4 linked regions of the Homo sapiens genome follow. The protein of the gene in region 3 purifies or fractionates together with the protein of the main gene of each other region. This does not show direct contact. Each region holds a gene or a part of one and is shown on either strand. Other genes may lie near its edges.

The links. Proteins that work in one complex are often made in the same cells at the same time.
Region 1: the proteins of CSTF2 (region 3) and CPSF2 purify together in Homo sapiens (affinity purification with western blotting; 3 studies listed by BioGRID and IntAct, with this or other methods). This does not show direct contact.
Region 2: the proteins of CSTF2 (region 3) and TUT1 purify together in Homo sapiens (co-immunoprecipitation; 2 studies listed by IntAct, with this or other methods). This does not show direct contact.
Region 4: the proteins of CSTF2 (region 3) and CSTF1 purify together in Homo sapiens (affinity purification with mass spectrometry; 2 studies listed by BioGRID, with this or other methods). This does not show direct contact.

The regions. Positions count from the first base shown.
Region 1 is NC_000014.9:92,166,969-92,169,806, forward strand, and holds part of CPSF2 (cleavage and polyadenylation specificity factor subunit 2), read left to right. Parts: 3' UTR 1-2,838. UniProt on the Homo sapiens protein: Component of the cleavage and polyadenylation specificity factor (CPSF) complex that play a key role in pre-mRNA 3'-end formation, recognizing the AAUAAA signal sequence and interacting with poly(A) polymerase and other factors to bring about cleavage and poly(A) addition.
Region 2 is NC_000011.10:62,585,024-62,588,523, forward strand, and holds part of TUT1 (speckle targeted PIP5K1A-regulated poly(A) polymerase), read right to left. Parts: intron 1-3,500. UniProt on the Homo sapiens protein: Poly(A) polymerase that creates the 3'-poly(A) tail of specific pre-mRNAs. Localizes to nuclear speckles together with PIP5K1A and mediates polyadenylation of a select set of mRNAs, such as HMOX1.
Region 3 is NC_000023.11:100,826,891-100,830,390, forward strand, and holds part of CSTF2 (cleavage stimulation factor subunit 2), read left to right. Parts: intron 1-1,149; coding exon 1,150-1,212; intron 1,213-3,500. UniProt on the Homo sapiens protein: One of the multiple factors required for polyadenylation and 3'-end cleavage of mammalian pre-mRNAs. This subunit is directly involved in the binding to pre-mRNAs.
Region 4 is NC_000020.11:56,402,645-56,406,862, forward strand, and holds the end of CSTF1 (cleavage stimulation factor subunit 1), read left to right. Parts: intron 1-823; coding exon 824-1,083; 3' UTR 1,084-3,718; downstream 3,719-4,218. UniProt on the Homo sapiens protein: One of the multiple factors required for polyadenylation and 3'-end cleavage of mammalian pre-mRNAs. May be responsible for the interaction of CSTF with other factors to form a stable complex on the pre-mRNA.

The DNA of each region.
Region 1 (2,838 bases), on a different chromosome or scaffold from region 3:
CATTTTCATGTGAGTTTAGATTCTGCTTATCGATTTCTTTTTTTTCTTTTTTTTTTTTTTTGAGATAGCATCTTGCTTTGTCACCCAGGCTGGAGTGCTATGGCTCAATCTCAGCTCACTGCAACCTCCGCCTCCTGGGTTCGAGAGATTCTCCTGCCTCAGCCTCCAGAGTAGTTAGGACTACAGGCGCGTGCCACCATGCCAGGCTAATTTTTGTATTTTTAATAGAGATGAGGTTTCATCATGCTGACCAGGCTGGTCTCGAACTCCTGACATCAAGTAACCCGGCTGCCTCAGCCTCCCAAAGTGCTGGGATTACAGTCGTGAGCCACCATACTCAGCCTAAGATTCAGCTTACCAATTTCTGCAAAAAAGCCCACTCATTTTTAATAGGAGGTAAAAAGCAGTTGACATTTATAACTTAGAGTCTTTTAATGTTAGTGCTGAAAGGGACTAGAGAGCTCATCTAATTCAACCCACTTATTTTAGTATTGAATGAATGACCCTGTACAAGGAAAGGGATTTGCTTGAGATCCACACAGCTGTTTAAAGGCAGAGTTGGGATTGGAACCAAGTCTTAGAGAATCCATTGTTGCTTCTACACTGCATTATTGCTTTGGTTCCCTAGTGTACATTCACTTTGCTTAGGAGTGATATGTTCAGTTTATCTTCTCTAAGAATGGCAGCTGTTATTTAGGACAGTGGCATGCTGAGAAATAGATTGATTTCTATTCTATACTGTGTCCAGTAAAGGTCGGGGGAGAAAGAGTAAATCTTATCTTCTTCTGTACTTTTCTTTGATTAATGTAAGAGTCTAGAGTTTTATCAGAAGATTATTGTCCTTTAAAATATTGATGGACTGATTATCACTTAAAGGGTATAAACAGTGGGTAGTAATTCAGTGATTGAGAGGTTAATTGCAGGTTTTTTTTTTTTTTTTTTCTGGTAACCATAGAATGAATGTAGAATGAATTTGGATTCAATAATGGGAACTAAGGTCAGGCGTGGTGGCTCACACCTGTAATCCCAGCACTTTGGGAGGCCGAGGCGGGTGGATCATCTGAGGTCAGGAGTTCCAGACCAGCCTGGCCAACATGGTGAAACCTCATCTCTACTAAAATTACGAAAAATTAGTCAGGTGTGGTGACGGGTGCCTATAATCCCAGCTACTTGGGAGGCTGAGGCAGTAGAATCGCTTGAACCCGGGATGCGGAAGTTGCAGTGAGCCAAGATCACGCCACTGTACTCCATCTTGGGCGACAGAGCGCAACTCTGTCTCCAAAAAAAAAAAAAAAAAAGGGCAGGGGGAGCGGCTAGAGAAGGAACATTCAAATCTTCCCACGTGGGCAAGTTCCAAGCAAATGTTTATTTTTTTACCTCCTCTTTGGTTTTTGTCTCACTTGAAGCACTTTGTGTTTATGGGAAAATACCAAAAATTACCAAAATTTAAAAACCCAGGGCTTTGCTGGAAGTGAGGGTATCTTCTTGGCTTTTCCCTTTTCCTCCCCACCACTATACGCACATGCACACACAGCTCTATTTTTTGGTGCTTTTCGTTCATTATTCACTCCATTTCATTTTAGCTCTTGAAGTCAAAATGGGATTCCAAAGAGCAAAATAGAAGTTTGGAGAGTTTGAAATCTCTCCTCGTGGCTGGACGCCGTGGCTCACACCTGTGATCCCAGCACTTTGGGAGGCCAAGGCAGGCATACTGCTTGAACTCAGGAGTTCAAGACCAGCCTGGGGAACATGGTAAAACCCTGTCTCTACAAAAAATAGAAAAATTAGCTGGGCATGGTGGCTGTAGTCCCAGCTATTTGGGAGGCTGAGGTGGGAGGATCACTTGAGCCTGGGGAGGTTGAGACTGCACTGAGTCTTGAATGAATGAATCCATCTCTCTTTCTCTCTCCATATAGTCAAAGAGAACCAAAAATGTATGTGCTTTTTTTGTGAAATTGTTAAGGATTCCATGATCCTACTAAAATTTTTGATAATGATAATTTCAAGTGGAGAATATATAAAGGACTCGTGAGGCCTTCCTACCTCATTTTCTGAGGTTATGTTGACTTTAATATCCAATGTATCATAGGTGTTTTCTTTTTTCTCTGACAATTGTTATGTTAAAAACAAAAAGAAGCACATACTGTACAGTCAAAACTATCAGACGTAACTCTGTGGGAAACTTTATTCCAAGGGTGCTGCCACTGCCCTTGTTTTAAATATTTTTGGAACTTCATTTCTCTTCAGGTCTATTTAATAAGCTTGTTAGGAATATTGTAAATTATTTTAGAAACACATTGTGGTCTCAGCCTCATGTGGCATTGCCACTTGTTACTACATGACCCCCCCACACCCCCTAAAAAAGAAAAAGGACTTTAAAAACCCTCTCAGGACAAACATTTGCTACCGTGGTTGATTTTTTAATTTTACATTAACTATTTAATATCAGACTATAACTAAAATACAAGTAGTGGAATTATACTTTTATAAAGTATCAAATTATGTAGATGATGACGAAGTTATAAGGTTACTATAATTTCCAACTTCACCCATAGGTCATGGTATAGTTGAAATTTCATATTTAAATATCAAAACATAAATGTCTAAAGAGATTGTGTAAATTCTTTATCAGTTATAAGGAAAAACCAAATTCAAATTCTTAAGGTTTTTCTTATATGTGATTTTTTTTTTTTTTTTTTTTTTGAGACAAACTTGCAGGGAGAGAATTATGTGGCATGAGGAGGATTGAGAATGTTGTTCATTTTATCTAATTACTGCCTATTAAGAAAAGCTTCACATTTATTTCAGCTATTCTATTGAATACTTTTACCTAAGATA
Region 2 (3,500 bases), on a different chromosome or scaffold from region 3:
GTTGGCCAGGCTGGTCTCAAACTCCTGACCTCAGGTGATCTAACCACCTCAGCCTCCCAAAGTGCTGGGATTACAGGTGTGAGCCACCTGGCCCGGCCACACCCTTCTTTTTTTAAAGACAGGATTTTGCTCTGTCACCAAGACTGGAGTGCAGTGATGTGATTATAGCTCACTGTAGCTTTGAATTCCTGGGCTCAAGCGAACCTCCCGCCTCAGCCTCCTCAGTAGCTGGGATGATAGGGGCACATCACCATGCGCAGACTTACTTCTACCCCTATGCCAAACACAGCAAAGAACTGAAGTGAGGCCAAGGACAAAGGTAGCTACTTGGACCTGCCCAGGCCAGTCTTCTGACTCTAATAAACCACAGTTTACCAGACTGCAGTACACCACCAAGTTTGTAACCAAAGCCCCAGATGGAAATTAAGAGTCTCTTTCACTGGGCCTGTCTGTGCTCCTATTTTTCTCCAAAACCTCACAGAAGGCATCAGGGAGGGCAGGACTGGCAGATTCAGAAGACTGTGTCAGCTGGGCGTGGTAGCTCATGCATGTAATCCCAGCACCCTGGGAGGCTGAGGCGGACAGATCATGTGACGCCAGGAGTTCCAGACCAGCCTGGCCAACATGGTGAAACCCGTCTCTACTAAAAATACAAAAATTAGCCGGGCATGGTGGCAGGCGCCTGTAAACCCAGCTACTCAGGAGGCAGAGGTTGCAGTGAGCCAAGATCGTGCCACTGCACTCCAGCCTGGGAGACAGAATGAGACTCCACCTCAAAAATAAATAAACAGGCCTGGCACGGTGGCGCACGCCTGTAATCCCAGCCTGTAATCCCAGCACTTTGGGAGGCCGAGGCAGGCGGATCACCTGAGGTCGGGAATTCCAGACCAGCAACATGGAGAAACCCCATCTCTACTAAAAATACAAAATTAGCCAGGCGCGGTGGCGCATGCCTGTAATCCCAGCTACTCGGGAGGCTGAGGCAGGAGAATCACTTGAACCCGGGAGCCAGAGTTTGCGGTGAGCTGAGATCGCCCCAAGCCAAGTTCGCGCCACTGCATTCCAGCCTGGGCAACAAGGGCAAAACTCCATCTCAAATAAATAAATAAATAAAAATAAGGAGCCTGTGTCCTTGCCATTTTTGTCCTCTCAACACCACCATCCATAGCTAGAGTTACTATTTGTTGAGGGCTTATTATAAACTAAGCAGTTCACACAAACGATGTCTGAGGCTCATAAGACACCTACGAAGTATGTATTATTATTTCCATTTTACAAATTAAGAAACTGAAACTCAAAGAGGTTAAGTAACTTGTAACTGCCTCACAAGCAGTGTCTTAAACTCCCAAATCTCCAACTGCCTACTGACCATTTCCCTTAAGAGAATGTTGTGGAGATTAGATGCAAGTGTACATAATGTGCTTAGCACACAATTGATGCATAGTAGTTCCTCAATAAAAATGTTAATCATTAGGCGGAGCACAGTGGCTTACGCCTGTAATCCCAGCAGTTTGCGTGGCTGAGGTGGGCAGATCACTTGAGGCCAGGAGTTCAAGACCAGCATGGCCAACATGGAGAAATCCTGTCTCTACTAAAAATACAAAAAATTAGGCCAGGCACAGTAGTTCACACCTGTAATCCCAGCACTTTGAGAGGCCGAGGTAGGCGGATCACCTGAGGTCAGAAGTTCGAGACCAGCCTGGCGAACATGGTGAAACCTGGTCTCTACTAAAAATACAAAAATTAGCCGGGTGTGGTGGCACGCGCCTGCAGTCCCAGCTACTCGGGAGGCTGAGGCGGGAGAATTGCTTGCTGGGATTACAGGCGCCTGCCACCACACCCAGCTAATTTTTGTATTTTTAGTAGAGATGGGGTTTCGCCATGTTGGCCAGGCTGGTCTCGAACTCCTGACCTTAGGTGATCCTCCCACCTCAGTCTCCCAAAGTGCTGGGATTACAGGCGTAAGCCACTGTGCCCAGTCGAGAGAAATACTTTTTCTAAAGGCCTCCTCAGTAAACTTCTACTTATATCTCAGTGGCCAGAATTCTACCACAAAAAAACTCCCTCTCAAAAAAAAAAAAAAAAAAAGGAAAAAGAAAAGGCATTTTTCTCAGAATAAAAGGAAAAAAAATAGAGGAGGGGACTCAAACTCAGCTGACACTAACCTTTTTTTATGAGATGGAGTTTCGCTCTTGTTGCCCAGGCTGGAATGCAATGGCGCGATGTCGGCTCAAGGCAGCCTCCGCCTCCCGGGTTCAAGCGATTCTCCTGCCTCAGCCTCCCGAGTAGCTGGGATTACAGGCATGTGCCACCACGCCCCGCTAATTTTGTATTTTTAGTAGAGACGGGGTTTCTCCATGTTGGTCAGGCTGATCTCGAACTCCCGACCTCACATGATCCACCCGCCCCAGCCTACCAAAGTGCTGGGATTACAGGCGTGAGCCACTGGACCTGGCCGACACTAACCTTTTATACTCTGCCCTACAAGCTGCCCCTTCTTCTTTTCTGAAGATATGGGGCAGCAGTATCGTAACTATGAAGAGCCACATACCAATAATGGCAGAGCAGGAAAACAGCAAAGCCCTGAACTGTCCAGGTCTGGACTTCTTGTTACATGAGAAAAACTAAATTCCTATTGTTTAAGCCATTTGTAGTTTGGTTGCTGAATGCAATCCCTAACAAACACAGGCTCCACCCCATTCTAAAAGATAACCTGGGCTGCAAAGGGATATTTTGGATCACCTAAGCCATGCCTACATAACAAGAGTACAGCCTCAGAACCACAGTATGACCAAGGAACACAGCACCTCAACAGTGAACTTTTTTCAAGGGACCAAAACCTACAGGGAAGCAACACAAAAAGCACAAGCTTGTTTATCTAACACTCTCCAAAGGACAGGGTGTTCTAACCAAACAACCTTAGTACCCTCAGTGTAAGTTAATAAACTGCTAACTGGTTTATCAACCAGGTTCTTGTGGAGTTGATCCAATGGTATGTTGTTCTTTAAGCACCAACTTTCACTATAATTACTTAATTGTTTACTTTCTCCTCTAGACTATAGGCTCTGTGAGAGCAGGGACCATATCTACCCCATTCACTACTCAGAATGCAGCCCTAAGCATAGTGCCTAGTACAAAGTTAGCTGTGAATAAATATTTGGCAAAGAATTCACTGAATCAATAGATGACACACACAAAAAAATCCCCCAGTGACTAACTCTGGTGAAGTGATAAAATCCAAAGGGTGGGACTGGGAGCAGTGGCTCACGCCCGTAATCCCAGCATTTGGGGAGGTTGAGGTGCACGGATCACCTGAGGTCAGGAGTTCGAGACCAGCCTGGCCAACATGGTGAAACCCTGTCTCTACTAAAAATACAAAAATTAGCTGGGCATGGGGGCACGCGCCTGTAATCTCAGTTGCTTGGGTGGCTAAGGTGTGAGAATTGCTGGAACCCAGGAGGTAGACGTCACAGTGAGCTGAGATTGTGCCACTGCACTCA
Region 3 (3,500 bases):
TGGAGGAAATAGTAGATTTCTTACGTTAAATCCTGTATGTCTAATTATAAGAACAGGGAAAGGGACAGTAAAGTGAAAGAGCATAGTAAAACTTCCAAGTTAACAAGGGGGAAAATGGAATGAGTGGAAACAAAATCAAGCCAGCAAAAATAGAGAAGAGGAAAAAAGTAAGAGACAGTGTAAAATAAGTAATAATAAATGTAGAGTAAGATGGAAGGAATAAAAACTAATGTAGTTGTTACTCTGCTAAATATGAATGAACTGTCAGATTAGGTTCAAAAGCTCATGAAGAAAACAGACAAAAAAATACAAGGTCACATTTGTTATAGCATATTAAACTGACATAAAATTGTATTTTAACAAACATAATCAGAACAAACAACAAAAGGGAAAAAGAGAAATTTAAAAGCTATGTACATTTATTGAAAATGTATAGATCGGCAATTAATAAGAGTATTGCTCATATACTTGTAACTGTTCCTTGTTCAACAATTGTAACTAAGAAGATTGAGTGAAATAATGATTCCCCATATGAAACATCTGTATGAACACATGATGTATTACCAATATTTAAAGTTTTTTTATGTAACAAACTTGGTTTTTGTTAATTTATCTAATCTAGGGTAGGTTGAGTACAACACTACTCATGGAGAATGATTTAATTCTAAATTGTTCTGTTCTGTAGAGAATCCAGTCTGCAGAGCTAAGTTGATGAGGAATGGAAGAAGAGATTTTTTGAAGAAATTTCTGCAAACTCAGGAATTTTTTGTATCTACTTTAGGATTGTTATGTATCTACTTTATCCTAATAGAGTTATACTTGTATTTAAATTATCTTTCATGACAGGAGGTCCATGGGTAAGTGACATTGTTTTCCTGTATTATAGAAGAGCTTCCTGCCAAGAGTTTGGTAACCAATGAAATGAATTATTCTTATTGAACTCACTATTCTGTCACTGAAACATAAAGTACAAATTGTAAATATACTAACAAACCCCATCTTCTCTCTCATTGCATTGTTGAATATCTTCCTTTGTAGGTTTCTGCTTGTGGAGCAGAATGAGGAAATTTGTAAACTCAGCCACTGTTCTAATTTTTCTTTTCCGCTGTTCTAATTGGTGTTTTTTCTTGTCTGCCCTTTATCTTCTAGGAGGAATGCAGGCTCAGGTTGGAATGCCAGGAAGTGGACCAGTGTCCATGGAACGGGGGCAAGGTAAATAAATATTAATGTCTGACTAATGTTAATTGGTCATGGAAGTGTTCCACATCCACAGTATCTAATATGGCAGCCACTAACCACCCATGGCTATTTCAATATTAAGTTAATTAAAATTAAGTAAAATTTAAAACTCAGTTCCTCAGTCACAATAGCCACATTCCAAGTGCTCAGTGGCCACAGGTGACTAGTGGATACCATACAGGACATTACAGATATAGAACATTTCTATCATCGTAAAAAGATCTATTGGACAGTGCTGGTCTAGACTTTCCACCTGGTGATTCAGAGTCCAGCTCTACAAGAATTGATAATGAAGCAAGTGGATCGTTTGTTTCCTGATTCCTAGTCTAATAATTCCACTGACATGTTCTCTCTCCCTGTATGGATATCTGTTGACTGAGTAAGGAATTTTAATAATGAGCATGTAAATATGTGGCTGGGTATGTAGAAGACTAGATTTAAACCCCAGAGAAAACTGGGAGGGAATCATAGGTCTGTAACGCCTACTTAATGAACATATGTTGTACCGTGGCTGTACTGCTATATACAACAGTAGCTGCTGCTCCAAAATCTCCATGTTGTTTCTTCATGTTACTGGAGTTTGAAGGACAAGAAAGTGCAGTGGTTCAGTTGGAAACAATGTTAGGAGGAGAGATCGTAAGAAAAGAGAAGGAACTGAGTGCATACTATATGCCAGGCACTTTAATTTTCATAAATAATCTTGTGAGTTAGGTGGCAGCACCTCAGTTTTACAGGCAAAGAGTTGGAAGCTCAGAATAAGTTACTTTCTCAAGGGGACAAGGTAAGTAAATATTAATGTATGAGTAATGTGGACTGGATTTGGTGCTCTTATTTTCTCTTCCAACTAGTAAGTGGCAGAGCTAAGATTCAGAAGTCTTTGACTCCAGAATCTGTCCTCTTTCTGTCACTCCACACTGCCTCTGTTAACTTCCAAGCATATTCTTCAGTGTCTTCTACTCTTATTCCTTGGGAATAAAATGATGGGAAAGACTGCTTTGGACAAGCATAGAGAAGCTTAAGGTTTTTTCTTTTGTAGCATATGGTTTATAAGTGGAACCCATTTAAAAAGCAAAATATTGGCCAGGCGCAGTGGCTCATGCCTGTAATCCCAGCACTTTGGGAGGCTGAGGTGGGTGGATTGCTTGAGCTCAGAGGTTTGAAACTAGCCTAGACAACATGGCAAAACCCCGTCTCTATAAAAAATACAAAAACTAGTTGGGCAATGGTGGTGTGCACTTGTGGTCCCAGCTACTTGGGAGGCCGAAGTGGAAGGATCACTTGAGCCCAACAGGTTGAGACTGCAGTGAGCCATAATCGGGCACCACTGCACTCCAGCCTGGGCAACAGAGCAAGACCCTGTCTCAAAGAATATATATATATACACACACACACACATATATATACACACATACATACATAAACATTAATATACAAGCCTGTGGTTTTTACACTGGGGTTGGTTGCTGAAGTGACAGAATTAACTTTTTCTTGTTAGAAGTCTGACAGCAGGACAAACTCCCTGGCCAAATATCTCATATTTTCTCTAAGCATCCAATGCTTTTGTGCTATTGTACATCCCTCTATCCCCACCGCACCACTGTCAATAGATCATATATGTTCCCCAGAGTATTTCTGCAGTAATGAGAAGGTATTAGGGTTTCAGTCATACTTCTGCCTGTCATGGGGCCAGCCCTCAATCCATCAGGTTTTAGCTGTTTAACGCATACTTGCACAAGACATCTTCCTATTATAGTTATCTTCACCTTTTTGTCAGAAATTGGCAAAGGGAAGTGACTCATGTTTTGAGGGTATTTCCAGGATGTCTTCATGCAGAGACTAAGTGAGATGAGCTTTCTTTTATAGTTTCCTTCAGTACCCAGCAGAGGAAGCAAGAGTCTTTTCGTGTGTGCCTAGTTTGTCTTACTTTTCCTGAAATCCATGCTGCTTTTAATGCTGAAAGGAGATGGAGATGTTTGAGAAGATACTTCTTGCTTCCCTGCCATGTTTGTTTAGTGTCGGTTCCCATGTCATCTCATTAGTCTTTGTTTGCTGTTGTCATGATGTTTATTATCAAAGACTTGCTGTGGCAGAGTATTTCTTGTGGAGTGATATTCTCTTTCATCATGTAAAGTTCATTCACTGCATTTCCCCATCTGATACATTTTTGACAGCAGAAATTTTTGTGCTTTAAAATGTGACAAAAATAGAATTGCCGTACTTCAGTTATGGCCGTTTCAGAATGAATCTTGCCTTCCAGATTC
Region 4 (4,218 bases), on a different chromosome or scaffold from region 3:
TTGTTAAACAGGCCGGGCATGGTGGCTCACACCTGTAATCCCAGCACTTTGGGAGGCCGAAGCAGGTGGATCACAAGGTCAGGAGATAAAGACCATCCTGGCCAACCTGGTGAAACCCTGTCTTTACTAAAAATACAAAAATTGGCTGGGTGTGGTGGTGTCCACCTGTAGTCCCAGCTACTTGGGAGGCTGAGGCGGGAGAATCACTCGAACCCAGGAGGCGGAGGTTGCAGTGAGCCGAGATCACGCCACTGCACTCCAGCCTGGCGACAGAGTGAGACTCTGTCTAAAAAAAAAAAAAAAAGATCACACACAAAAGAATTGTTAAATAAGTAATGGGGCTTCTAAACATGAGGCACTTTGCATCTAGTAAAAAACATGGAAAAATGTACTCAGCATAAAGTTGGTTAAAACTATAATAGAAAAATATAGTGGCAACAATTTTATATGTATTTTTAAAATGTGTTTTTTTATGCCTCAAAGTACATTAGGACAGTAACAGTATTGCTTCAGGTGATCTGGTGATCTCCTTTTTTTTTTTCCTGATGCAGTCTTGCTCTTGCTCTGTTGCCTGTTGCCCAGACTGGTCTTGAACTCCTGGGCTCAAGCAGCCCTCCTTCCTCAGCCTCCCAAAGTACTGGGATTACAGACGTGAGCCACTGTGCCTGGTTTGATTTTCTTTTTTGTACTTTTTTAGAGTTTCTGAAAGTGTACAAGGTGTATCACTGCAACAGGTTTAAAATGCTTTTACATTGAATGCTAGAACGTTCTGAGGGTCTAAGATGTGGACTTAGAAAGCTATCCCTCTTGCTCTCTGTGGCAGGCGCGGGTTTAAGTGGACGCCAGGTGCACCGGACACAGGCTGTGTTTAACCACACCGAGGACTATGTGTTGCTGCCCGACGAGAGGACGATCAGTCTTTGCTGCTGGGACTCGAGGACAGCCGAGCGGAGAAACCTGCTGTCGTTGGGGCACAACAATATTGTACGCTGCATAGTGCACTCCCCCACCAACCCCGGGTTCATGACGTGCAGCGATGACTTCAGAGCGCGGTTTTGGTACCGGAGATCGACCACTGACTGAGCCACCCTCTCCGTAGGGTTCTTTCTCGAGGACTCTACCCTCCTCCCCCACGTCCTGTCTCAGCTGCAGTCGTAAGTCCGTGCACCATCCTTGACGTTTTGCTGCCACCTCTGTCCACATTCTTCTTGGATTTGTATAAAAGAATCTTTTTTTACCTTGATGTAGAATCATGGTGGAAAAAGTTGGAAACACAGATCTGTGCAGTTCTACATTCACTGATTATTACAGTGTGATTTTCATCGGTTTTGTAAGTACAGGACTTGCCGTTTCTTTTGATCTCTTGATTGAAGGAGGATAGGGCATTAAAGTGCTTTTGACATGAGGAATTTTCATTTGGTTCTTCTGTCAACTTTCTTGCTTATTCTGCTGAACCCTCTGTGTATTTCCCTTCCAGGTATATTTGAACAGATAAGCAGGCATGCAGCTCTGAGACTCCTGAGTTTTATGCCATTATCAAAAGCATTTTCAAGAATCCCTCAATTCTATCCTGAAATGATGTTATTCTGATAATAAAGCTCAGATCTGCAACTTTATTGTTATATATTTTTCACTTCTGTAAAATTAATGGCCAGTTTTTCCTGACAATTTATAGGAACAGTATCTTTCAACATACTCCCTACATTATCCTTCAATATCTGCAATACTTGTCTTTAGTAACTGTATTTCTGGTAAGATTATGATTTCATGAGAAACAATTGAAAATATATCCGATCTAATTAAATTAGGTCAGCCTGCTATTGCTCTCAGGTGTTGCCTGTCTTCACGAATGATTAGTATCGATTGACCTCTTTCTTAGGTGGTTTTAAGTCTTCAGTTCTCGTCAGCATGAACTAACTTCTCATCATGGAGGCACATAGTAACTGCATTCTCAGAAGATTTATGCAGTTAACCAATTGATACAAGTTTTCTTTTTCTTGAATTTTTTTTTTTTTAATTGAGGCACAGTCTTGCTCTGTCACCCAGGTTGGAGTGCAGTGGCGTGATCTCAGCTCACTGCAAGCTCCGCCTCCTGGTTTCACACCATTTTCCTGCCTCAGCCTCCCAAGTAGCTGGGACTACAGGCACCCACCACCACGCCCGGCTAATTTTTTTTTTTTTTTTTTTTTTTTTTGTATTTTTAGTAGAGCCAGGGTTTCACCATGTTAGCCAGGATGGTCTCTATCTCCTGACCTCGTGATCCGCCTGCCTCAGCCTCCCAAAGTTTTGGGATTACAGGCGTGAGCCACCGCGCCCAGCCTTCCTGAAGCTTTTTAGAACATGACAGTACTTCTCTGGATTCAGCACTAGCAGAGTCAGAGAACTCTGAACTCCCCTTGTACAAACATAAACTTTGCTTTATATTTATCCCAAAAAACAAATACCTTATGATCTGCATAGGAGTACCTAGAAATATAATCTGGGATCATTTGATAAAAATAGTAAATAGATTGAAGTAAAAGTCATTGCTTTATATTATAGGAAGTTTTGTTTTGTTTTGTTTTGTTTGTTTTGTTTTTGAGACGGAGTTTCGCTCTTGTCCCCCAGGCTTTAGTGCAATGGCGCGATCTCGGCTCACCGCAGCCTCCGCCACCTGGGTTCAAACGATTCTCCTGCCTCAGGCTCCCGAGTAACTAGGATTACAGGCGTGCGCCACCATGCCCGGCTAATTTTGTATTTTTTTTAGTAGAGACGGGGTTTCTCCATGTTGGTCAGGCTGGTCTCGAACTCCCAACCTCAGGTAATCCGCCCGCCTCAGCCTCCCAAAGTGCTAGGATTACAGGCGTGAGCCACCACGCGCGGCCCCATCATACGAAGTTACTGAAGTTATTGCGTAAACATTCTGTTTTAGTCATCCTTGAGGATCGTTTTAACTCCTTGATCTGTAAAACTGTCTTAAGCATCTTAACATGTTACATCACAGGGTTTTAGCTCAGATTTCCAAAGAGCCATATTTTTTGATGCATATTTCCAGTTGAATTCCAGTGTGAATTTCCAGTTGTACTTTGCATTCTGATTCTTTGATATTTGAACTTGGCCATCTGTGGGTGCTACTCTCGTAAGACTAAAAGGCACCTACTAAATACGAACAAGGATAACCAGTTCTACCAAAAACATTACCAACCAAACCTCCCCTGTTCTTTTTTCAGACTTTCCTTTTGCTTTCAACCTCTTAAACTGTAAAGGAGAGATTTAATGTTTCCCTATTATTCTGCTTTGACTCACATACTAAAATGACCACATGGCACTCCATTGAATCTTTTCAGTTGTTCACGAATTAAAATAATGCCCATGTTTTACAGTTTTTCGAGTAGTCTCAGCAATGGATCTGTAGTTTCAGGACCTGTTTTTAAAAGATCAAGATACTTTTATGTGTTTCAGAAGTAGCTGTTTTTTCATTTTTTGTGGGTTTGTTTTTTTTGTGTTTGTTTGGTTGGTTGGTTTTTGGTTTTTTTGCTTTTTAAAGGTCACAGTGTTGTGAGCCTGGTGTAAATGCCAGGAATATTATATGGACTTAGTATCTGCATCTCGTTAATTGTACCACACAACACTCTGCCATTCAAATAATGAATATCTGGTCAGGATACGAACTTATACCCTCTGTGTGTTTTTTTTTTTTAAGATACGTGATTTCTGAAATAAACTTTATATACAATGATAAGCTAGTTTATTTTTTTTGGAACTTACTTTGAACATTTCCCACATTTGAACATCTGTTCTCAAACAGCAGTTATGACTTTGGTACTGTTCACCCTTTCTTTAGTGCTTTGTTCCAGAAGTCAGGTTTTTATAGCTGGATCACCTTTAGCTCTTTATCTTTGCTCCTCTGCTCTCTATGAATTTTTCTTTTTTTGAAACGAATTCTCACCCTGCCGCCCAGGCTGGAGTGCAATGGCGCGATCTCGGTTCACCGCAACCTCCGCCTCCCAGGTTCAAGCGATTCTCCTGCCTTAGCCCCCTGAGTAGCTGAGATTACAGGCGCGTGCCACCATGCCTGGCTAATTTTTTCTATCTTTAGGAGAGACAGGGTTTCGCCATGTTGGCCAGGCTGGTCTTGAACTCCTGACCTTCTGATCTGCCCACCTTGGCCTCCCAAAGTGCTGGGATTACAGACGTGAGCCACCGTGCCCGGCCGCTCTCTGTGAAGTTAAAGAACTT